Linked DNA regions of Homo sapiens. The protein of the gene in region 7 purifies or fractionates together with the protein of the main gene of each other region. This does not show direct contact. Each region holds a gene or a part of one and is shown on either strand. Other genes may lie near its edges.

What was found.
Region 1: the proteins of ITGA6 (region 7) and SEPTIN2 fractionate together in Homo sapiens (co-fractionation; one large-scale study listed by BioGRID). This does not show direct contact.
Region 2: the proteins of ITGA6 (region 7) and TRDN purify together in Homo sapiens (co-immunoprecipitation; one large-scale study listed by IntAct). This does not show direct contact.
Region 3: the proteins of ITGA6 (region 7) and OSTM1 fractionate together in Homo sapiens (co-fractionation; one large-scale study listed by BioGRID). This does not show direct contact.
Region 4: the proteins of ITGA6 (region 7) and TSPAN5 purify together in Homo sapiens (co-immunoprecipitation; one large-scale study listed by IntAct). This does not show direct contact.
Region 5: the proteins of ITGA6 (region 7) and TSPAN15 purify together in Homo sapiens (co-immunoprecipitation; one large-scale study listed by IntAct). This does not show direct contact.
Region 6: the proteins of ITGA6 (region 7) and NRP1 purify together in Homo sapiens (affinity purification with western blotting, with the first as the bait; one study listed by BioGRID). This does not show direct contact.

What each region holds. Positions count from the first base shown.
Region 1 is NC_000002.12:241,318,925-241,322,424, forward strand, and holds part of SEPTIN2 (septin-2), read left to right. Parts: intron 1-1,278; exon of another isoform or gene 1,279-1,363; intron 1,364-3,500.
Region 2 is NC_000006.12:123,504,451-123,507,950, reverse strand, and holds part of TRDN (triadin), read left to right. Parts: intron 1-3,500. UniProt on the Homo sapiens protein: Contributes to the regulation of lumenal Ca2+ release via the sarcoplasmic reticulum calcium release channels RYR1 and RYR2, a key step in triggering skeletal and heart muscle contraction.
Region 3 is NC_000006.12:108,068,242-108,071,741, reverse strand, and holds part of OSTM1 (osteopetrosis-associated transmembrane protein 1 precursor), read left to right. Parts: intron 1-3,500. UniProt on the Homo sapiens protein: Required for osteoclast and melanocyte maturation and function.
Region 4 is NC_000004.12:98,477,112-98,480,611, reverse strand, and holds part of TSPAN5 (tetraspanin-5), read left to right. Parts: intron 1-1,801; coding exon 1,802-1,927; intron 1,928-3,500. UniProt on the Homo sapiens protein: Part of TspanC8 subgroup, composed of 6 members that interact with the transmembrane metalloprotease ADAM10.
Region 5 is NC_000010.11:69,457,965-69,461,464, forward strand, and holds part of TSPAN15 (tetraspanin-15), read left to right. Parts: intron 1-3,500. UniProt on the Homo sapiens protein: Part of TspanC8 subgroup, composed of 6 members that interact with the transmembrane metalloprotease ADAM10.
Region 6 is NC_000010.11:33,177,668-33,181,167, forward strand, and holds part of NRP1 (neuropilin-1 isoform a precursor), read right to left. Parts: intron 2,699-3,500; coding exon 2,409-2,698; 3' UTR 1-2,408. UniProt on the Homo sapiens protein: Cell-surface receptor involved in the development of the cardiovascular system, in angiogenesis, in the formation of certain neuronal circuits and in organogenesis outside the nervous system. Mediates the chemorepulsant activity of semaphorins.
Region 7 is NC_000002.12:172,500,586-172,503,772, forward strand, and holds part of ITGA6 (integrin alpha-6 isoform b preproprotein), read left to right. Parts: intron 1-1,186; coding exon 1,187-1,294; 3' UTR 1,295-1,316; intron 1,317-2,722; exon of another isoform or gene 2,723-3,187. UniProt on the Homo sapiens protein: Integrin alpha-6/beta-1 (ITGA6:ITGB1) is a receptor for laminin on platelets. Integrin alpha-6/beta-1 (ITGA6:ITGB1) is present in oocytes and is involved in sperm-egg fusion.

The DNA.
Region 1 (3,500 bases), about 69 Mb from region 7:
TGACCTCGTGATATGCCCGTCTTGGCCTCCCAAAATGCTGGGATTACAGGCATGAGCTACCGCACCCAGCCGAGTATTTGTATTTTCTGTGTATTCAGTCCAATCAGCAAAAAAGTGTTTTCTTTTGATTTTCTTGTTTCATTATATTCAGTAAACTCACCAAGGTAGTATTAAATAATCATGGTGAAATTGCAATATCTGGATCTTACTTGGATCTTGATTCACATGAAAAAAATGAGAGAATAGAGAATATGAATACTGATTGGATATTTGATTGCATTAAAGAACTAGCTATGTGTAATGGTTTGTCATTTTTAGGAGCCCTTATTTTTAGATATGTGTAGTGGAATATAAATGAAATGTTACATCTCGTATTTGCTTCATAATCATCCAGGCAGTGGCATTGATGATTGTGGAAATAGATGAAACATTATTGACCTTCAGTTGCTAATTGTTGAAGCTGGATAATGGATAGCACATGGGGGTTTTGTTTGCTTTTTGTATAGGTCTTCATGTAAAAGTTTTCATGTAAGTGCTTAAAAATAATTATGGAAGGGCATTCCTGCCGAATTATCGGTTGTAATTTAAATAGATTTAATTTTCTATTGTTTAGAAAACAGTATTTGCCTTTGGTTTTCAGAAATATCCTGAATTAGATTTAAGCAGTTTTCCTTTTTTTCTTTTTTTGAGACAGTCTCACTCTGTCACCCAGGCTGGAGTGCAGCAGCACCATCTCGGCTCACTACAGCCTTCACCTCCTGGGCTCAAGGGATCCTCCCACCTCAGTCTCCCACTTAGCTGGGATTACGGGTGCCCGCCACCACACCCAGCTAATTTTTTTGTATTTTTTGTAGAGACAGTGTTTCACCATGTTGTCCAGACTGGTCTTGAACTCCTGAGCTCAAGCGCTCCTCCTGCCTCAGCTTCCCAAAGTGCTGGTATTACAGGCGTGAGCCACCACACTCTGCCAGCAGTTTTCTTACTGTTTTCATTATGATTGGTTGCTGAATTTCATATGCCTCATCAGCATCTATTAATGCATGATTTTTTTTCCCCTATACTGTGTTGTTGGATTAATATTGGTAGATGCTTTTGATACATTCCTGGAATCTAATTGCTAGCAAATATTGTATTCAGGATTTTTGCATTTATATTTGTGAGTGAGATTGGCCTATGGCGTTCATTCATTCCTTTGTTCCTTTCTTATGTCTCCATCTGGGTTTGTTATTAAAACTGTGCTGTCTTCATAAAACAAATTGTTTTCCCTTTTCTCTGTAGAGGCTTGGAATAGTTAAATGACTTTGGTCTTGTCCAAGGTTAGATGGAGTTCAACTCTAACGTCAAGTCTTGGTCCTTTTCATTGGTATGTCTTTAATCAGCTGCTTAGTGATACTTGTTTTAGTCAGATTTTCCAGTTTTTGGTTCTGTATTGGTAATTTACAGTGCCCATTTTTTCTGCATTTTCAGATTTGGGGCCATTTTGCTACATGTAGTCTTCTCTGTCATTATTTTAGCTACTTTTCTATATTTGCTATTTTTTCCTGAATTGGGCTTGTGAGGAATTTGTTTTAGAAAACCAGCTTTTGCGGCCAAGCACGGTGGCTCAGGCCGGTAATCCCAGCACTTTGGGAAACCAGGGTGGGAGGATCACCTGAGGTCAGGAAGTTTCACCTGGCCAGCATGGTGAGACCCCATCTCTACTAAAAATACTAAAATTAGCTGGGCGTGGTGGCGGGCACCTATAATCTCAGCTATTCCGGAGGCTGAGGCAGGAGAATTGCATGAATCCAGGAGGCAGAGGTTGTAGTGAGCTGAGATCGCGCCAGTGCACTCCAGCCTGGGCAACAAGAGCAAAACTCCATCTCAAAAAACAAAAAGAAAACCAGCTTTTGGATTTGTTTACCCTTCTTTTTCCCCCCCTCATAATTCATTTTTTCTCTTTATTGATTTCCTGTTTTATCTCCTAAGTTTTGCTTTTATCTTCCTTCCATTGCTTTCTAGAGATTGCTTATGGCTTTGCTTTTGTTACCCTCCTTGATCCTGGGGATATCCAGTAATGTAACAAATTACTGGGAGTTACTTTTCATCTTTTTCCACCCAATTTAAGCAGATAATTATTTGAGAACATTGACTGTAAAAATGTTTTTCAAATTTTGTTTAGGCTTTTTTTTATGGTAGATACATGACTTCAAACATTTTTTAAGGTATTGATTCAAATTTCTCTATGTCTGCTAAATCAGATGTATTTGTTGTATTACTCAGTTCTTCTCTGTCCTTGCACATACTGTGTTTACTGAATCTGTCCGGTTCTCAGAGAACTCTATTAAAGTTTCTCACTTGAATTTTTTTTTTTAAGTTTGTATTTTTCCTAGTCCTTGCTTTATGTGTTTATCTACAGTGATTATTTGAATATACAGGCTTATGAATATTACATCTTCCCTATAAATTGTTTCTTTTATCATTATAGCTTGTTATCCCTGTTATTCTGCTTATTTTTACTTTAATTCCCACCTTGGCTGATAGTAGTGTTGTCTCTCCTCCATGTTTGCACTAGCCTGCTATTTTTTACCTTGTCCCTTTATTTTCAGCCTCTCTTTGTTCCTTTTGCTTTAAGCATATACGTTATAGCTGGACGGTTTGTTGTTTTTGTTTTTTTTTTCCCTTGGTTTTTCAGGCCAATCTGTCTTCTCCTTTAAGCAGAGAATTTGGTTATTTCACATTTATACTGATAACTGATATTCTTGAATTTTGTCCCCATTGTCTTGATTTAGGATTACTTCTGATTTTGTTTCTTCTTGTTCCTTTTCCATATTTTTGCTGGTTTGATGAAGTTGCTGTTTCCTCCATATTTTTCTCTTAATTTGGAAGTTCTCATTGTTATTTTCTTTAATGATTACCTTTTTTTTTACTTTCATAATCAGATACTTATCTCTGTATTATTTGAAAACGAGATGCCAACTCCTTCTGCCAAAACTGTCTGTATTACATCTGACCCTTCTCTTTCCCTTTAGGAAGTTCTACTCCTCCACACTCACACTTGCTCTCAATTCTTAGGTTTTGCTGAAATTAAAGGCTCTTGAACCTTACTGCTACTATCCCTTGGTTAACCAAGCCAAATAACACTGGGGATGCAGGGATCTCATTTCTTCCAAAGTAGCTGGGAACATTTCCAGTCAAAAGGGAAACAGAGGACACAGTATTCAGGAAGTTAAGATTTGGGGGAGGGGAATCGAGAGGCAAAGTGAGAGAAGCTTTTTAATAAGTTTCTAAGCTCCAGAGGGAACCAAATTTGACAGCAGTCATCTTTCTTGGGGTTGTTACTGAAGGTTAGCCAACAGACTCCATGCTTTCCAAAGCTTCAGGGTTTCTAAAATTTGTTTAAAAATTCCACATATCTCTGGCTGGGCACAGTGGCTCACACCTGTAATCCCAGCACCTTGGGAGGCTGAGGCGGGCGGGTCATGAGGTCAGGAGATCGAGACCATCCTGGCTAACACAGT
Region 2 (3,500 bases), on a different chromosome or scaffold from region 7:
CAGTTCTTTATGGAATGAGAGAGAAAATTTGTTATTTTCTAACTCCCAACATGTGTAGTATGTTTCTTGAGGGATACTATTCTATTTAATACTTTGGCATCAGACATTCTGAATCTGATGCAGTAGCTAATGGATCACGCTAATTCCAAGATTGAATCAAATATGCTGATGTCATTTTTTTTGATTAGGCCATTTTGTTTTCCATTTGACAAAAGTCATGAATAAAATGCCTTCCTAAATAAAACTGGGTGATTTGAATACCCATGGCAATACTTTTTGTTTTTTTCATTCCTTAATAAATTTCGTCACTTAAATTATTTTAGGGAAAAATCAGGAAAAATATTTTGGCACAAAATTGAAGAATGTGTACTCAAAAGTAAATAGAAGTTGGGTGTTGCTTTAGTTTCATGATATTTTCTTTATTATAGCCACATCATTGTTTAGTTGTCACTCATTTTTTTCTACTATGAGGCAAAGTTATCTATTTCCAGAGTGAATGTGATTGAAGAGTGTCTAAAATAGTAGAAAATATTTTATTATTTTTATACTTAAAGTCAATGATTATAATGAGTTGGCTATATATGTGGTTCTACCTCTTAGAAAATAATCATTGCCCACTTATAAATTATAATGGCATTAAAAAGAAATCTGAATTTCACACATCTATAGTTCCATACTATAAAGTTAAGGTTAAATCAACTGTAACTTACAAGGAGTAGATAGCTGTCATTTAGAGTAAGCAAATATAACAATTTCATACAAATTAGTATAAACAAAAAAAAAAGTTGGCAAGTTTAACAGGTTTAGACAAGTTTATTTCTAAACACATATTTACATAATGCAGTCTCTATATCACTATATTATACATATGATCTGAGTATAGTGGAATATTTACTCTCTCCATCAAAATTGCTAATCCAGTATACATTTATCCTCTGTTTTCTCTGAAAGAAGCATTGTGCTAGACACTATGGTGATACAAAAATAATAATAGAATTCCTGCCCCTAAGCACTGTCTGTCTGGTAGGGAAGACAGATAGATCAAACTATCTATATTTCAAGATATATAATAAAGAATAAAATGTATAATTTAATAAAAATTCAGAAAAATGGAAGCTCATGGGAAGACATTATTAATTCAAATGGGAGAGCCATTTTTTTGCATGTGAATTGACCATGAAGAAATTTAATCCCAGCACTTTGGGAGGCCGAGGCGGGTGGATCGCCTGAGGTCAGGAGTTCAAGACCAGCCTGGCCAACATGGTGAAACCCCATCTCTACTAAAAATACAAAAATTAGCTGATGTTGGTGGTGCACACCTGAAATCCCAGCTACTCGGGAGGCTGATGCAGGAGAATTGCTTGAACCCGGGAGGCAGAGGTTGCAGTGAGCCAAGATTGCACCATTGCACTCCAGCCTGGCAACAGAGCCAAGAGTCTATCTAAACAAAAAAACAAAAAGACAAAAATAAATAAAAAAGAAATAAAGAAATTTAAATATGTGGAAAAATATAGAAAATATAGAGAATGCAGTCTGACAACAGTTGACACATGGAAAAATACATAAAATATTCAAAAGAAAGAAAGCAGTCCAGTAGAGGAATAAATTTTTGGAAAAGTGCTGTAACATGGGAGATAGGAGGAAGCCAGATATTGCACGGTTTTAATTTTGCTGTGCTAAAATTTATTCAGGTAGTTTTATTATTATGCTGATTTTTAGAGCTCCAGCAACTAGCTGTGAGCCCAGGTCAACATAGACTCTCTAGAAGTGTTTTTTAGGTGAATGAGTTGCATGAGATTGAGGTGCTGTTGACCACTCCAGTGAAACTTTCTTTCCAGACAGACACTAATAAACATTCCAGTGTGGAATTCTGGAATGATTTCAATTTAAAGTCATCCGCAGAAAGCTGCTGGTTTCAGTCACAGAAACATATGAGTTTACTGCAGGAAAGAGCAGAAACCAGCAAAGGAGGTTTAGAAATGATTTATAGGAAGAAGAAAATCCCCTGAGTGTAGTTACAGAAGCCACAAAGATGTTGAAAGTTTATGGACATGTGAAACCCCATCTCTACTAACAATACAAAATTAACTGGGCTTGGTGATAGGCGCGTGTAATCCCAGCTACTTGGGAGGCTGAGGCAGGAGAATTCCTTGAAACTGAGAGGCAGAGGTTGCAGTGAGCCGAGATCGTGCCACTGCACTACAGCCTGGATGACAAAGCAAGACTTCATCTCAAAAAAAAAAAAAAGTTTATAGAGTAATTGAGTAATATTTGTATGAGAATTTTATGATTAAACAATATTGAATAATGTGTGTATCATAATTCCCCTTCTTAAAAATTCTCAATACACTTCAGCTTTGAGAAAGTCCAAGCTAAATGACCAGGTTAGCTTATTGTTGCCAAATGAATTTGGCCATGAGAATATTCTCCAATACCTAATACAGTATCAACATCTTCCTGTAAATATCTGAAGTATCTGAGAAACAGTGTTTTGGGAAGTGCTGGCGTAGTCAATTAAGTGCGATACCACAGATGATTTTTGGTTTGCAAGCTAACCAGCATCTGGCATTATCATTTTCATTCTCTCAATGGGACCTTCTGATATTATCTTGGCTTAGCCTGAAATCATCATTTAGGGTACCAAAGTCAAGAAACTTGATTACATTTTTTCATTAAATTCTTTTTTTTTTTTTTTTTTTTTTTTTTGAGACAGAGTTTTGCTCTTGTTGCCCAAGTTGTGGTGCAATGGCGCAATCTCGGCTCACTGCAACCTCCGCTTCCCTGGTTCAAATGATTCTCCTGCCTCAGCCTCCTGAGTAGCTGGGATTACAGGCATGCACCACCACGCCCAGCTAATTTTTGCATTTTTAGTAGAGATGGGGTTTCACCCTGTTAGCCAGGATGGTCTTGATCTGCTGACCTCATGACCCGCCCGCCTTGGTCTCCCAAAGTGCTGGGATTACAGGCATGAGCCGCCATGCCCGGCCTTCATCAAATTCTTTAACATGAGTGACAATAAAGGCTACACAGTGCATTAGCAAATGACATAGAGGATTCCAACATTGCAGTAGAGTTGCTGTGGTGTATAGTGGTTATGTGTAGTCACATACAAAAAGGAATGTCCAATATTCAGCATCTATTATGAACAATTTTCCACAAATTATGTGCTACATTATTACTGCTTTTTAAAAGATGCTTGAATGATCCACAGACTAGTTATTTGCATCACAGTTCCCTCTTCCAAAATACGGATAATATCAAATTAAGAATATATGTGTGTAATATATATATGTTCTAATTTATATATCTATTCATATATATTTTTATTTATAGCCCTTTGAATTTCCCATGATATGTTTAAGGGCTTTAAAAACTAGTAGAATTATCGCTGACTTAAGATAAACAGGAGCCAATATCTGAATTTCTTCACTTTCAGTTTTTCTAAGGCCAAATCATTAGACTATAGGTCTTTCAGTTATCTTCTAATGGATTTCATTGTT
Region 3 (3,500 bases), on a different chromosome or scaffold from region 7:
CAGTAGAGCTGGATATGATTCATTAGCTCAAAAGTGTGACATCTACAGTTCTGAGGTACTTTATAGATTTAAAAGGCTATATGGACTGGTTTGGGAGTTGAACCATCATGTATAATAATGAACTTATGAGGCCAGGTGTGGTGGCTCGTGTCTGTAATCCCAGCACTTTGGGAGGCCAAGGCAGGCAGATCACCTGAGGCCAGGAGTTCGAGACCAGCCTGGCCAACATGGTGAAACCCTGCCTCTACTAAAAATACAAAAAAAAAAAAAAAAAAAAAAAATTAGCCGGGTGTGGTGGTGCGCAGCTACTCAGGAGGCTGAGGCAGGAGAATTGCTTGAACCCGGGAGGTGGAGGTTGCAGTGAGCCAAGATAGTGCCACCACTCTCCAACCTGGGGGACAGAGTAAGACTCCGTTGCAAAAAAAAACCAAAACAAAACAAAACAAAAACCTATGGAAAAATGTGTCATGAGTGAACTTGAAGGAATTAGTTGTCTCTTGGGGAGGTTTATTTATCCAGTGTAGTATATTTTCTTTTCTTTTTCTTTTTTTTTTGAGACAGAGTCTTGCTCTGTTGCCCAGGCTGGAGTGCAGTGGCATAATCTCAGCTCACTGCAAGCTCCACCTCCCAGGTTCATGCCATTCTCCTGCCTTAGCCTCCCAAGCAGCTGGGACTACAGGCGCCCGCCACCACGCCCGGCTGATTTTTTATATTTTTAGTAAAGACGGGGTTTCACCGTGTTAGCCAGGATGGTCTCAATCTCCTGACCTCGTGATCTGCACACCTCGACCTCCCAAAGTGCTGGGATTACAGGTGTGAGCCACCACACCCAGCCCTTTTTTTTTTTTTTTGAGACGGAGTTTCCCTCTTGTTACCCAGGCTGGAGTGCAATGGCGGGATCTCGGCTCACTGCAACCTTCGCCTCCCAGGTTCAAGCGATTCTCCTGCCTCAGCCTCCCAAGTAGCTGGGATTACAGGCGCCCACCACCACGCCTGGCTAATTTTTGTATTTTTAGTAGAGACAGGGTTTCACTATGTTGGCCAGGCTGGTCTCAAACTCCTGACCTCAGGTGGTCCACCCGGCTCGGCCTCCCAGAGTGCTGGGATTACAGGCGTGAGCCACCACGCCCAGCCTATCCAGTGTAATGTATTTTGTTTGACTCAGACTCAGTCTTTTATTGAAATCAGTTTTTAGCAAGCACCTACTATTCTTGAATATTGGGCTGGTAAAAGGATAAGAAGGAAAAGAAGGGTAAGATTCAGGCCTCAAACTATCAGTATAGTTAGGGGAAATAAAATACCTTATATGGGGAAATAGGAAAATATCAGTGAGTGTTATAAATTGTACCATAGCAATTTAGAACAAAAGAGTGAAAGGAATGCCAAGTTAAAGGAGGGAACAGAGCCAGATGCAGTGGCTCATGCCTGTAATCCCAGCACTTTGGGAAGCCGAGGCAGGTGGATCGCTTGAGGCCAGGAGTTTGAGACCAGCCTAGCCAACATGGCAAAACCCCGTCTCTACTAAAAATATAAAAAATTAGCCAGGAGTAGTGGCATGTGCCTGTAATCCCAGCTACTCAGGAGGCTGAGGTGGGAGAATCACTTGAGCCTGGGAGGCTGAGGTTTCAGTGAACCAAGTTTGCACCACTGCACTCCAGCCTGGGTGACAGAGCAAGACTCCATCTCAAAAAAAGAAAAAAAAAATGACGGAACAGAGCAAGGCTGGTTCATCAGGGGAAACCTACAAGCTGAATCTCAAGGCATTCTTTCTACCCTTCTTTAGTGTGAATGGACATGGATTGATTGAGAGAGGAGAGGAGTATAATAAGGAGAAAAAAAGAATCAAAGCCAGAAACTAGTAAGCTATTTATGTGGTACAGCAATATAATTAGTTTAACTATAATAGAATTCCCTGATAAGAATCCTAGGTTCTTGTCACTTCCTTTTAGAATTTCTGGGAGAGGGATCGCATATAGTTTCATTATCTCAAGGTGAAAAATACAGTGATTTCTGAAACCTGAATGATAGAACTGAGGGATTCCCTCTTCCTTAGAGTCATACTTTCTCCTTTTAGTTTAAACTGATAGGGACATAGTTTCATTGTGATTCAGCATTATCGGAATGGTCCTGAGGATGCTTTTGCCCCCTCAGATTCTGAATTGGTAGGCTCTGTCCTATTCTACTTGGTTTGTTTAAAATTTAGATAGTGTTTAAAATTTAGATCTATAGATCCATCCATCTACCTATCTATCTCTATCTATCTATGTATCTGTGTATCTTTGTGAAGTGCTAGTCATTTGGGTTATGTATTTGGTGAGTATTCAATATACTTTTACTGTAGATTATTAAATAATGAATTCTGAGGACTATAGGGAGAAAGCCAGAACATAGTGTAATAATCTGTGTCTTTCATTAGAGATCAGAAAATGTAATATTTCTTCTGCATTCATTCAAAAAAATTATTGAGTACCTATTATGTACAGGTTGTGGTAGCTACTAGGGATATAGCATGAATGAGCAGAGCTTGTAGTCTGAAGACAGACATTAAGCATCTCATTATACAAATAATTATTTAATTCATGTGTGATAAGTGTTGCTGATTAAAAAACCCAGATGCTACCAATGCATATGACAAGAGTGCTGATCTTGAGTATGACTGGGGGGTAGGTAGAATGGTCAGTGATTAAAGCAGACACCTACAATTTGAGAGAACACAGGCAGGGGAGGGAAGGTATACATGTAAAGAAATAGCAGGCATGAAGACTGAGATGGGAAGGAGTTTGTGGTGTATCTGAGGTCTAGAACACAGCACAGTGAGCAAGAAGGAAACCCGTGGTCTGAGCCTAAGGAAGTACACAGGTGCCAGGTCATGTGGGCCTTGTAGGGTATGTTAAGGATTTTAGACTTTGATTTTAAAGCAGTATGACGTTAGTGAAAGGTTTAATTCTGTGGAATGACATAATCAGATTTGTACTTTAAAAGGCTATGCTGGCTATGTGACAGAAAATGGAGAGGGTAGGGGCTGGGGAGGGTAGGGGAAGAAGATATGTGGGGAGATGAATTAGGAGACTGTTGCAGTGGTGTGAGAGACAGTGGTGTCTAGGCTATGTGGGGGCCATCATGATGTGGAGAAATGGGTGGATTTCAGAGATACTTAGGAGGCAGAAATTACAGGCTTGGAGGTTAATTGAATGTGGGGAGTAAGGAAAAGGTAGTGATGATTTCCAGGGTTTTAATAAGAGCAGCTTAATGAATAGGGTTGTCATTTACTGAGCTGGAGGGAGGAGTCTGTTTAGTGGGCGAAGATCATTAACTCAGTTTTGAACGTGTTGATTTTGAGGTGTTTATGAGCTTTCTAAGTGGATATATTGATTGCCTATGTGGTTGAATATACACATCTAGAGGACTGGACTAGAGATAACACCTTTGGGAGTGTCGGCATAAAAATGGCATTTGAAATTATGACATGGGTGAACATACCTGAAGAATGAGTAGGAACA
Region 4 (3,500 bases), on a different chromosome or scaffold from region 7:
TTTCTTTTTGCATCATGGAATGTAATGTTTAGAAGTAGCTGTTGGTCCGGAAGGTCTTCAAATGGTTGAGACTTGATATTTATTTAACTCAGAGAAGTAGAGAAAGTGCATCCCAGGGAAGTGAGGAAGGGGCTTGTGTAGTAGCCTTTGACTCCGGCCCCATTTAAGAACCACTGAATTTAACCGCTTGTTTTAATATATTTTAATTGGAAGACTGACTTTTTAAAGTTGAAAATGTAAAACACATGCACTTGTTTTTAAACAAACTCAGAGTAGAAACAAATATGATGAAAAGTTAACCTCTAAAATTTTTGGTGGTAATGGATATATCAACTATATATCCATTGATTGTGGTGACATTTTTGTGATGTATACAGATGTCAAAATTTATCAAATTGTATACTTTAAAATGTGCAATTTATTGTATGTCAGTTATACCTCCATTATTGCGGGATCTGGCCAGCAGCCTGCAATGCAACAGGGATCTCTCTGTTCCCAGGCGGATCGGCAGGTCGAGAAATAATAGACACACACAAGATAGTGAAAGCTGGGTCCAGGGGGGTCACCGCCTTCTGGTCACGCAGTGCCAACAATGCACTGGATATACCAGAATTTATTATTAAGTTTAGTGAGGGTGGGGGTAGGTTAGTGAGGGATTTAGGTCATTTGATTATGAGGTGAGATGGTCACATGGGGATGAAGTAATTCTTTAACATAACATCTGTATGCAAAAGTACAGTATACAGGGATAAGAATTTACAATATAGTGTGTGCTTCAGTAATTTCTAACAGAGCCTTAAAACAGAAACACAGTCTTTCCACAACCTATGATTAGCAAGATATTAGTCAGCAGTAACAGTTGCAGCAAAAGCCAGTTACAAACAATCCATAGAAACAGGACGTGAAGCTACACAACCAGTTAGACCAGAAATTCTCAGAAGGGAGTATGCCTTAACCCTAAAGAGGTCTAGAAGAGCCGTGGCAAGATGAGGGCATTTATAGCCCTGTCTTATACATATGGACAGGTGCCCCTCATGTGTCTGTTTATAGGCTCTCCACAAAGGTCGCATTCTATTCCCAGAGCTATGAACATCTGCTTTTCTGGGATAGGAATCTTGGTGATGTGAAACCTCCCTGACTGCACGTCCATTCATAGGCTCTCTGCAGGGGGAAGCACATCACGCACTGTTGGCTCATTCTGGCAGTCCAACCTGGCATTGTCTTTACACAATCCTGCATGCAATTTTGTATTTCCAGTAATCAGGAGCATTTCATCTTTTATTCCATAGCAATAGTTTCAGGGGGTCTCCCTGCGCTCCATAAAACAAAACAGATCTTTAAAAAAACTATTAGAATGTAGAGATCAAAACTTTGAAAAAGTAAGCTATAGTTAGCCCACCCATAACCCCAGTTGCCTCCTTCAGTCACTACCACTGTCGTTAGTGTCTTATTTACCCTTCTAGAATGTTCTTGTTTCTCCTTCTAGAATGACGTGCCCAAGCCAAACAGATCTTGTTCTAACTGAGCCCTGCTGTACAGCTGCTCTGCCCTTCTTCCACCTAACACCACAGGTCTCATCAGTTGTTTAAATCACGTGCCAACACATCCCTACAAACCTTCAGCCCTAATTAATTTGGAAGATTTTATATGGGCCATTTAGGTTCAGTTTGGCTTAAAAATAAAGTCTAGGACAGAAAAGAAGGTCAGAGCTGGCAGAAGCTGGTGTCGTTCGGCGGGTGTGAGTGTAGGTGACTGCTTGCCTCCAAGTTGGGATGTTCTAATTCTTTCCTGTTTGCTCTAGTGGCAGTGCTGTGGGGCTTTTGGAGCTGATGATTGGAACCTAAATATTTACTTCAATTGCACAGATTCCAATGCAAGTCGAGAGCGATGTGGCGTTCCATTCTCCTGCTGCACTAAAGATCCCGCAGTAAGTGAATGCCAGCGAACTATTGGCCTACTCTGTACATCATGCCGAGAGTGTGCATGGGACGAGCAGAGTGATTTTTTGGTTGAACCCTCTTCTTACCTGGTTACTCGTATTTGTAGCTCCTGTAGGGGGTTATGGTGCTCAAATCTTCCTAGTAGGAGTAATAATTGCTGGCATTAATTTAGCAGTGTGTGCTGGTTCCTATTCTAAGCCTTTATGTGTGTTGGCTCATTTAAGTTGGGCACATTCCTACTGGCAGATACCACCATTACCCTCCCTTTTCAGGGGAAGAAATCAAGGCACATGAGGTGTAAGTGACTTTCCCAAGCTTGCACTGCTAGCAGGCAATGGAGTGGAATATGAGACCCAGGCAACTTGCCTGTATCATCTGTTAGCCTTTCTTCATGAGAAGGGCAGGCTCATATGAGAGCTCTCTGCATTGGTTTGGGGTTAGTAACCCTTTTCTTTTTGGCTTAGTTCTAGGGGAACTATTAGGAGTAGGAGGAGAGTTTGAGACAAGATAGGCCTGGACTGCTGTGTAGGAAGACCACAGCTGCCCAGACTCCTGAATGTCATCATGACTATAGTCATGCAGTTTGCATTTTATTATAAAAAAGAATAAAATATAAAATCTATTTGTAAGTCACTCACTTTTGCCACAGGTTTGATTATATTTTGTGTCAAATCGTGCCTGGTATATAGAATGACTTAAAATGCAATTCTTAAGCCAGGCATAGTAGTTCACACCTGTAATCCCAGCACTTTGGCAGGCTGAGGTGGGAGGATCCCTTGAGCCCAGGAGTTAAAGACCAGCCTGAGCAACATAGTGAGACCCCATCTCTACAAAAAAATTAAAAAATTAGCCATGTGTGGTGGCACACACCCGTGGTCCCATCTACTCTGGAGGCTGAAACAGGATCACTTGAGCCCAGGAGTTTGAGGCTGCAGTGAGCCATGATCATGCCACTGCCCTCCATCCTGGTGACAGAGTGAGACCACAATTCTTAAAAAAAAAAAAAAAAGGTAACTCTCTAGTGTTAGAATGACAAACATGAGAGGTTACTCCACGCATCTCTGTGTGCTCCTAGCTGCAGAACCCTTCTGGGACTCCTCAACTGTTCTCTGGCCCTGCAGTCTCCAGATGTACTCCCCAAGGCTCGCCCTTACCCCTCAGAAGCAGAGCCGAGTGGGTGCTGATGAGCTCAGTGGGGATGCTCCTTCTTATGGTGGAGGCTGTGGGGCTCTTAAAAGGAGCTATGGTCTTGGAGTGGAAAAGCAGAACTTCCCTGTGGGCTTCCTCCAGGGGACCACCTCAGCTGTTTCTCTTGGTCTGAAAGAGGAGACAAAGTCACTAAGGACTGTGCTGCCCCGCCAGCTGCCCTTCCCACCAGCTCAAACCTCCTCTCCCTTCTGAGGAGAGCCACATGGCAGCAGAGTGCCCACTCAGAGCTTGAGGGGCTCATCCTGGTGGCCTTGCACTGGCCAGCGGGTGCCGCACAGTGCGCCTCCTGTCGCCAGTTCCTGTCCCACATTAACACTCCCTTGGGAGAATTCTGTATTCTCAGAGGCATTA
Region 5 (3,500 bases), on a different chromosome or scaffold from region 7:
CCTCTAGTGCAGCCTTTTAAATTTACCGATAAGAAATCAGAGGCCTGAAGAGAAGTGAGTTGCCTGAAAGCCCACAGCAAGTCAGTGACAGGCCAAGACCAGATCCAGGCTGCCTGACTCCAGTTTCTTCCTCGGGCCCCCATGACCTTTCCAGGCGCCATGTATGTTTCTCCCTGGTCTCAGGGTGAGGGTAGAAGATAACCTTTCTGAAAGAGGCCACGTCCCTGGCCTCCCAGTGAAGCACTAGGTGAAGCCAGGCCAAAAAGAAAGCACTTCTCTGGAGACAGTTTCCAGGAGATTTTTACTTTCGAGAAGAGCTTTATTATTTTTGTGAAAATCATACATGCGCATAGCTTAAAAGATTCAAGCCATTTGGGAAAGTACAACGAAAACAGCAAAAGTCCCCTTTGATTCTACCACTGGGATTCAGCCACTGTTATATGTTGGTAAACATCCATCTGGACATCTTGTACATATATGTAGACATTTTATTTCTTTAATTATCTTTCTTATTGTGTTTGATTTGTCGAGCAAAGTTCATTTTCTGGCTCTAGGTAAGCATTCCAAATAGTGAAACTCAAATAGTGAAGCTGAAAGTGGGGCAGCCTTCATATTGGAGAAGTGGCCAGCCGTGCCTAACGGGCTGTCAGAGATGATCTCATAGCATCAGACTGGGCTCAGGCCTCGGGCACAGAGAGGTCCTCCCCTCCCCCAGTCTGGCCACAGAGCCTTTAAAATCCAGAGAATCAGGGCTGCAGCCCTGCCAGGGGTTTGGAGAACCTTCCAACACCTTCATTTTATAGATGAGCAAACTAAGGCCCTGAGAAGTGTCCTTCGCTCTTAACCTAGACTTTGTACATGGTCTCGTTCCCCGCTTTAATAGAGGAATTGCTTTATGTCGTAGGACTGGACCTTGCTGCCTTTGGGTTGGTTCCTGGAGAAGCAGGAATAACCACCTGCCCTCCTGCCCGGAGGCCTTTCTTCCCAGGTGACTCACAGTGCCACCCTGGGGTGGGGCTCACGGTCAACCTGATAAGGGACTGATAATGAAATTTCTGTACCAACTGGCTCCACACAGGGGAAAGATGTTTTCTGGGTAAGTCTGGTCAGAAGAGGTTGATGGGGGGAAAACAAAACAGACAAAAAAAAAAAAAAAAAAAACAACAACAAAACAACCTTTCCCAGAGAGAACTTTTAGATGTGAATGGGTTTGAATTGACTTCTTGTTGGAAGGCAGGAGCATTCAGTCTTAACCAGCCGTGCTCTCTGGTTGGTTGGTTTGTTCATTAAGTCAACAAATAGTTATTTGATGCCTACTGAATGCCAGGCACTGTGATACCGTGATAGGTGTGGGAAGCAACTATGAACAAGACAGGTTTAGTCCAGGCCTTGGAAGACAGAGCAGTAAATAAATATCACTTGTGATAGGTGCTAAGGAGAAAATTAGGGAGCAAGTGGGGAGGGATGGGCGTTTCCACTTTCGATGATGTGGTCAGGGAAAGCCTTTATGAGGAGCTGACATTTCAGCTGAAGCTCAAATAGAGAAGGAGCCAGCCATAAAGACTTGTCCAGAGCATCCCAGGCAGAGAGAGCCATGAGTTCAAAGTCCCTGAGGCAGGTCGCAAGCATGGCTACAGCAGATGAGGAAGCCCGGGAAGGGCTGCGCTGTGGGTGGAGAGGGTGGCAGGGGCCTGGCTGTGTGAAGAGTTTGGGGTTCGAGTGACTGAGAAGCAGGGTTTCATTGTCAGGCCCTGTGGTCTTGCCATCCAGAGACCTAGATCAGGTGTTGGCTATTCTGTGTGACACTGGGTAAAGGACCAGCTCTCTGAGCCTCCGAGATGCCTCCTCTGTGGGTACCCCAGAGGGCAGTGGGGAGGATCCTGTGAGATGAGAGGTGCCAAAGCACGGGGCCTACTCTAGGGTCCCCCACCCACGGAGGGAGGGAGACTCTAGGCACCCCCCCCCCACGAATGGAGGGAGACTCTAGGGCTCCCTGCCCACGGAGGGAGGGAGAGTCACCTGGGAGCCTTGCATTGCTCAGGGGTAGTTGGGGAGATGAGATGAGATGAGATGAGATGAGATGAGATGAGATGAGATGAGATGAGAACCTCTGGAATCCGTCTTGTCAGAGGAGGCTCCTTTGCCCCTGGGGGTACTCAGCCTGCCTAGAACAGATGGCTATGGAACCAACTCCTCCAGCCAGCTGGTCTGACCCCTAGGGTGTGCATGTGGTCTTTTCCAGAGGCTGGGCCCCTCCCACCCCTTAGTTTCTGGGCTACCATGGCACACTGTCAGAAGCACTAGGCCACAACAGGCACGCGGGGCCAGGCAGGCCGTCTGAGAAGTGTCCTGCTAGGCTCTGAGGGGTCCCAGCCCTCGGTCAGCATGAGTTGTTCAGCTCCAAGCTAGGCCCCTGGGCTGGTGGAGGTGAGGAAGAGACACCGTAGAGACACTGTAGACTTACGATGTCACCTTCCCCAGCTAGAGGGTTGGCCTGTGAAGGAGCTGGCAGCCATCTCTGCCTCTGGCGATGTGCCATGTTAGCCCAGGAACTAAGGGGTGGGAAGGGCCCAGTCCCTGGAAAAGACCACATGCACGCCCAAGGGGTCAGACCAGCTGGCTGGAGGAGCTGGTTCCATCAAGGGCCAGTCTGAGCTAGGCTGCCTGACTGTGGTGGCCTGACCACCACATTTTGCTTCATCTCTTTGGATTCTCAGAGTGACCCTTGAGCTGGGCTGGACAGGGGGTCTTGTCCTGTTTTACAGAGGAGTCTTTGGGAGGACTCTGAGGGCTTCACTGGGCAGGGAGGCCTCGCAGAGAGGAGTGGAGATGAGTCTTAGGAGAGGGAGGGCGGGCTACAGAATGTTTTTTGGGCCTGAGTGTTGAGGTCAGAAATGTCCTCTGGGAAGACCAGGTCTGGAGGCCAAGCAGAGCTGAGGAGGATGAGCACTTCTTGGTTGGCGGGTGAGGAGAAGGTCCATGTGACAAGTCATGGACAACTCTCTGTGCCTTGGTTTTCTTGTCTGCTGGGAGGGGATAACTGTTGTGCTGCCCACAGGGGTGAGGCTTAGATGAGGCAGTGCCCACAGAGCGCTGAGTGGGCATCTGGCTGGGTAACCGTTCATGCAGATGCTGGGAGGAGACGCCGTCTGCCACGTGTCTCACCACAGTTTGCTTCATCTCTTTGCATTCTCAGAATGACCCCATGTGCCTTGTCCCATTTTATAGAGGAGGAGACTAAGGCCCTGAGCGGGGAAGTAACTTGTGTGAGAACCATCATTTGCATGTGTTCCTGGGACAAGAACTGTTTCACTGTGGGAAAGGTTACTGTTGGGTTTTAATTTTTTCCAAAAGGGACTTTCTCGCCAAGACATTTGCATCTGGGCCTGCAGGGAAGCAAGTATTTCACTGGAGGGTGGAAGGAAAACAGCCTTGGCCCAGATGGGCTTGTTTTTCCCTCTTCAGAGCCCTCCCACTTCCTGCCTGGGAGAGCAGGAACC
Region 6 (3,500 bases), on a different chromosome or scaffold from region 7:
GTGTCATATTGTCATAGAAAATAATAATTTCTGTAAAAAAAATCTGCACAAAATCTTATGATGGTACAAAACATGAAGCAATAATATACCAGTAAAATGAAAACATTTTACTACAGAAAGTTTTATAGATTTCCATAAAGAAAAAATATGTTATTTTACACCTTTAAAAATTACAAAACAATCTAAAACAATATAAACTGAACATTTTGTAACACTGCCTTTACAAATTAATAACTTTATAAACATATAATTTTTAAATATATTTATCAGTGCAAGATACTTTAAATTTTAAAGTTGCAGTATCATTTTTCCTTGGCTGAGGACAACTTTAAGTCTGTTGCCTTTAAAAACAACAAACGAGTGTTTCTTAGTGCTTTCCTTCTGGTAGGATTATATCAACTAAATGAATGTCTCTGGGGACAAAAAACTATTCTTCTTTCATGGTGATCAATATTTTCCTGGAAACAAAAGGCATTCTCAATCCAATTTAACTAAGATGAATGGACTGTCTCGTCTATGATGCAAATGTGACTCCCAACAAATGTCTTTGAGTGAGACGTCTAGCAATGTGGGAAGGAAGATCTAAAAAATCTCATGTCCAACATGGCATGATAAAAATCCACCAAAACCAACCAAAGCTTCTTTGGGTTAATTCATAGGCTGCCTGGTAAGATATTTGCTTCCCTGTGCTGTTAGAGGCTTAGATGTTGCCAGCCCTAAGGCAGGCTTATTCTTTGTGAGCCGCTGGAAGTTTCTAGAAGCATTCATTTAAGTCTATTTTTTCAAGGTTGCTGTTATGAATTTTTAAAACATTTGTTTGACTTTATGTGTTTTTCCCCCTCTTATCTTAAAATACTTGACCCCCAGGCATCAGGATTTATAGTTTCATTCTTAAATTAACTGTTCTTCCTTCCACTTCCCTTGTGTGACTCAGTAGCAAAATAAGAAAGTTCTCTTGGGTCATTTTTGCATATTTGGATAGAAAAATCTCATGCTTTTGGATTTGGAAGATTTTATCCAGTTCTTCCTTTGGGTCTCACTTGAAAGCCAATTTGTATTATTTCTTTCCTCAACTTATCACTATTTCTACTAAATGCCAACATTTCTATCAAAGGTCATTTTGAATAGAATAGATAAGGAAAAAAGATACTGTCACTTTAACCAGTTAACAAGAAAACCAAAGTTAGACTTTGGAGGGCAAAGTTAGGAATTTCCCTTATTTATTTATTTTTAAACATAAAGTCTAGTAAAATCGTTTGCCATTCCCAGCAGGTTAAAGCTGCAAGTTTCTTTCCTGGACAATGGCAAATCCTCCAATTCTAAGAGAGAAAAAAGACAGAGAGATAGGAGAGAGAAAGAGAAGAGAGTTTACATTTGAAAATACATTCCATATGAAAGAACAATAAGAGAGAATATTGTAGCTTTATACAAAAGGGTCAAGAAACATGAAATTGAACTACAGAAAAAGCAGAACAATTAAGCCACGTTGCCAAATCTTCAGAGCCCTTGCCTGCCCGGAGGGGCTGGCATCTCACACGAAAATAAACTTTCTTCTTAGTCAGTGGGCCACCAGAGTTTGATTAAAGAGCAGGGCTTTCACCAGCAAGAAGCAGAGTGGGTCGTTAATGTAACACAATGAACCAGTACAAACAAAAAGGCACTTGAGAGGACATAGACTAGCCAGTGCCAAGGATTTGTGTTTTTGTTGTTGCGGTTGTCAGCAGTATACCCAGTGGCCAGCCGTGTTCAGGGATGGCACCGTTTTCTGTATGGAGTTCACAAGCACGAGGTTTAGTACAACACCGGAAAAACAGCAAGAAAACTGGACAGTATTGCTTCGTAAACAGAGCTGACACACTACACCAGTACTGAGGCTACAGTACTTTAAAAAGAAAACAGCCTAATCCTTCTTTGCCTATGCACGACGCGGGCAATTATACACAAGTACAACTTCAGGAGTCCACTGAAATGCGGTGATTCTAGTATATTCTGGGCACTGGGTTTCAGGTAGCATGTCCATCCAAAGGGCCACACGGAATACGCTTGGTGCCAGCATCTTGGATTTCGCTCAGTTTCCAAAAAGAATCCACAAAGGGGAGAGGAGAGAGAGAGAGAGGGGCAGGAGGGGTCGAAATGAATGATTATGTCAATCATACTTGGTCTCAACACCAGCATCTGATTATTCAAATGAAACCAACAGGAAAAAAGCTGACTGCACATGAGTCCGATGGTGAACACAGCTCCTTGTCCATGTCTGTCGGCCATACTCATTGAAGCTCCTGAGAAAAGCCTGGCTCAGTGGTCATCAACACACTTCCCAGCCTGTATAGTGAAAGATCAACAGCTCCCCAGCTCACTCCCGTCCTTCCACTTCCGTCCTTTGACTGTCTTTTCATCTCTGTCTGCCTTCATGCCTCCGAATAAGTACTCTGTGTATTCAGTTTGTCTTTTTTCAACTTCACACCATCCACAAGTTCAAAGTTATAGTTCTCCAGGGCAGACAAGTTTCTTTCTGACATCCCATTATGCCAACAGGCACAGTACAGCACGACCCCACAGACAGCCCCCAGGAGGACCCCCAGGGCACTCATGGCTATGATGGTGATGAGGATGGGGTCTAAGGTCTTCAACACATTGCCTGGCTTCCTGGAGATGTTCTTGTCACCTTCTCCTTCACCTTCGTATCCTGGCGTGCTCCCTATGGAAAAAAACAATATTGTCTCCGTGAGCACCGCCAACAGACCAGATGAAAGCAGACAGAAAAATAGAAAGGAACGAAACAGGAGCAAATCACACACCCCAGTTTTGCCTGTCATATCTGACTCATTGTTGGGAACAGAAGTGTGGGAGGTGGTAGAGGGGAGTGGGCGCTGGGGCTTCTGACAGACTGCTTAGCACGTGGAAACAACCCATTCTGGATCAACTGGGAGGTTCCTTGCTCATCTAACTCAGATTTCATGCAGCCCCATCTGTCCTAGATTGTAATCTGTGTTTACAGTCCTTGGCTAGATAGGTGATCATTAAGTTTTGCAAAATGCTTAGTCACACATTAGTCTAGCAAGGGGATTTTACCATTCCCAGTGCATGTACCTAACCCCAAAACAGGCACAAGAAAAACCTTCATGGCTGCCCTTCTACGTGGTGCTGTTTCCAGGATCTGGCATGGTTTATGCATGTGTTTGTTCTCCCATATGGAAAATCTTCAAGTGAAACGAATTTTGCCCAAAGTCTACAGTAGTTTCAGTAAAGAAGGAGTGATTTTTTAGAACAAGAGAATGCTTGCTGCTGACATGTAAACAGAGTGTGGCTCAAATCGAGAAACCATGTCTGTCATGCCAAATAGAAGACATTTACTAATAATCAGCATCTTTGCAGCCCTGGTAGTTTAACTGGAGACAGTTGCACTGCTCTGCAGCTCAGTCACTGGGGACTTGTTTTCTTTGGAGTGGAACAGGAGAAATTGTTAACATGGGAGCTTTGAGCCTAATTACCTGGTACTA
Region 7 (3,187 bases):
TGCCACTGCACTCCAGCCTGGGCAACAGAGTGAGACTCTGTCTCAAAAAAAGGAAAGAATGTTGCCAAGTTGGAGGCAGGACCAGGCCTCTTGGCTCCTGGTTTATTCTTCTTCCCACCCTATTTACTAGCACATATTATTGAAAGCTGCCCAACAAAACTCTATACTGATGGAAATGTTCTGGAGCTGCAGCATCCAGTATGGTAGCCATTAGTCATGTGTGGCGGTTAGGCACGTGGAATATGGCTGGTTCACTTGAGGCACAGAGTTTTAAATGTAATTTAAATTAATTTCAATCTGAATAGCCTCACGGAGCCAGCAGCTCCCATATATTGTACAAAGTGAATCTAGGCTTTTACCTTCATGAGTTGCTGGACTAGGAATCAGAGTTTTTCAGGAGATTTTATTTGACCAGGTTAAATTTTATAAAAGACAGTTCCATGGCCTTATGAACTAGATAAAAGTAAATAGGAAAAGTTCTCTATCACTGAACGAAGGAAATTATAGTAGAAAGTGGAATTATACTTTTATACTCATTTAGAGTGACCTAACCTGAGGAGCATTGGGTCCCTACCATTTAAGGGTTTTATGGTGCTCAGAGTTTGGGAAAATGACAGCAATCATTCTTTCATGATGGTGTATTCGAATTTGTATTGTGATTCACCCCACAGATCCAAAGGCCTCAAGTAAATGGCATTTGTTCCATAAAATTTACTGTAAAAGGCAGAAAAATACCCATAGTATATCTATATTTTATTTGGATTTGTGCTTTTATTTAGAGAATTTATTTTCTAACCTTTGTCTCAATAAACTGCCGAAGTCAATCTTTTGCCTCTTTTGGAGTTCATATTCTCCTGCAGGAAGAAACTACCCAAAGCTACAATCAGCAATGTATATACGTTTTCCCTATTAGAATGATTTTTGTCCACAAGATTTCTGTTACAAAGAGAAAAATCAATGAGCTGACTAGTGTCATCCATATAAATATTTGACCAGAGATGTATGGTGAAGGGTGTATTGAATATGACAATGAAACAATGCAGTGGCTGTTCATTGTTGGTTGACTGAAAGTGGTCTGTTTGTAAACAAGCCACTAGTAGAAGGCAGATTAAAATTTGAGATGTTCTGTTGTTTGGCTCTTATACACAAAACTGTAAAATTGACTAAATACCTTGCTTCCTTGTAGTGTGGTTTCTTCAAGAGAAATAAGAAAGATCATTATGATGCCACATATCACAAGGCTGAGATCCATGCTCAGCCATCTGATAAAGAGAGGCTTACTTCTGATGCATAGTATTGATCTACTTCTGTAATTGGTAATTGATCAATGTTTTTTAATTGCTAGCTGTGGGACCCGCTATGGTTGTGGTGGCTAACTTTAAGAACAACAGCTTGCTATGTGTGTCCCATTAACAGATGTTTCCAAATGTCCACACTGGCTTGCCTTGCTTGGATTTGTTTTATTTTATTTCACTTGAAAGCTCAGTTTTTGTTTTTTTTAATGCACAGTCTTTCGTTGCAGGTGAGTTATTTTATGTTCTTGTTAAATATCTACCACAGCAATGAAGAAAATTTGCAATATTTGTACACACAAAAAGAGACTTTTAGCCCTCCATAGTAGCCCAGTTTGCAATGTGTTATTAATTCGGTATGTAGCATTCCACTAGGGAATTCAAAGATGCATAAGAAATCATTCTAGATTTCTTGTCCATTTTGGAATTTTCCACAGATAGAAGCTGTGTCGACCGCCTAATTAACCTGTTGCATGTTGGAAATGTTGTGTTTCTCTTGGTGAGGCTTCCTCACTGTCATCTTTTTGTTCTCTTTGCTATAAAGTGATGGGGAAGGCTTGGAATGCTTTTTACTGTTGCTCAGGAATCGTTTTATGCTAGCTAAGCATGCAACTTCCATTTCCTGCATGTCTCCTACAGGTCAAAGACCATTACAACAAACTGATTATCAGCATGATGGGCTTTTATGGCCAACTTCAGAAGATGATCCCTTACCAAAGTTACCTTCCATCTACAAAATTCTAGTACAAAAAATACCCTGAACAGTTTTTATTGCAATATGTTGTGATGGAGTTTGACCATATTTCATGTATCCAGAGATTTTATCCAACCTTGGATCTCAGTTGATTTTAAATTCAAGTTTCTCTTATTTGGAAATACATGGAAATAGGAATTGCTAGTGATCCCTTTCACCATTTACGTGGGCATGAGAGGACAGAATTACTCCTGTAATCCTTTCCATGGCACTATCACAGTGAATCACAACATTGCCATTCAGCTTTACATATTACCCTTAATTTCCCTCTTTGTTTAAATGGGGTAGACAGCAGTCATATTTTGTAATAGATAGGTACTTTGGCTTTTTTTTCTTTTTTTTTGCACAGAATAATAAATGAATCCATGTAGAAATGACCTGGAACAAAACATCTTGGTCCATTTTGCCTATTGATTTAGTGATAACTATACATATAATTTTATCTTGCTCCATGGCATTTTTATAACATAACATCATTCAACATAAATGTCCTGTTACTATTGACGTCACACAATAAACACATTAACAGTTCTATCAATATCCTCATTCTTCTAAACTGCATTTTAAAGTTGAAAACACCTTTTTTTAAAAAAAGTAAATATATTTCATTTAAAAATTTAATCTCAATTCAAATTTTTTCAGATATATTCTCAGTAAAAATATACTTTGGATCAGATTGACTATTTAAATGAATTTTATATATATATATAAACACACACATTAACAGTTTAAAGGTAAATGTATTTTTGCAAAAGAAGAGAAATTAGGGAGTGCTCTGAAATTCAGTGTAGTGATGCACTTCTGAAGTCCTATGCAGCACATGATTTTTATTGCAGGAAACAGTTACTATGTGATTAATGAAATAGCTTAATTAGAAGCACAATAGCAAATCCAGGCAACATAAATGACCTCCTGGCTAATGAGAGAAGTGATATGTGTACTAGAGCCTCAGAGGAGAGAAAAAGATTATAAAGTTGACCTGTTGGAACACTGGCATATTCAAATAGTAATTTGTAAAATACTTGTGACATGATTTGCATTTTATTAGTGGGAAAGGGGCATGAAATAATCTTTGGTTTATGCCATTTAAAAATTATTCTTAATCTAATCTGATAATCAGATATTTTACATATCATATTGT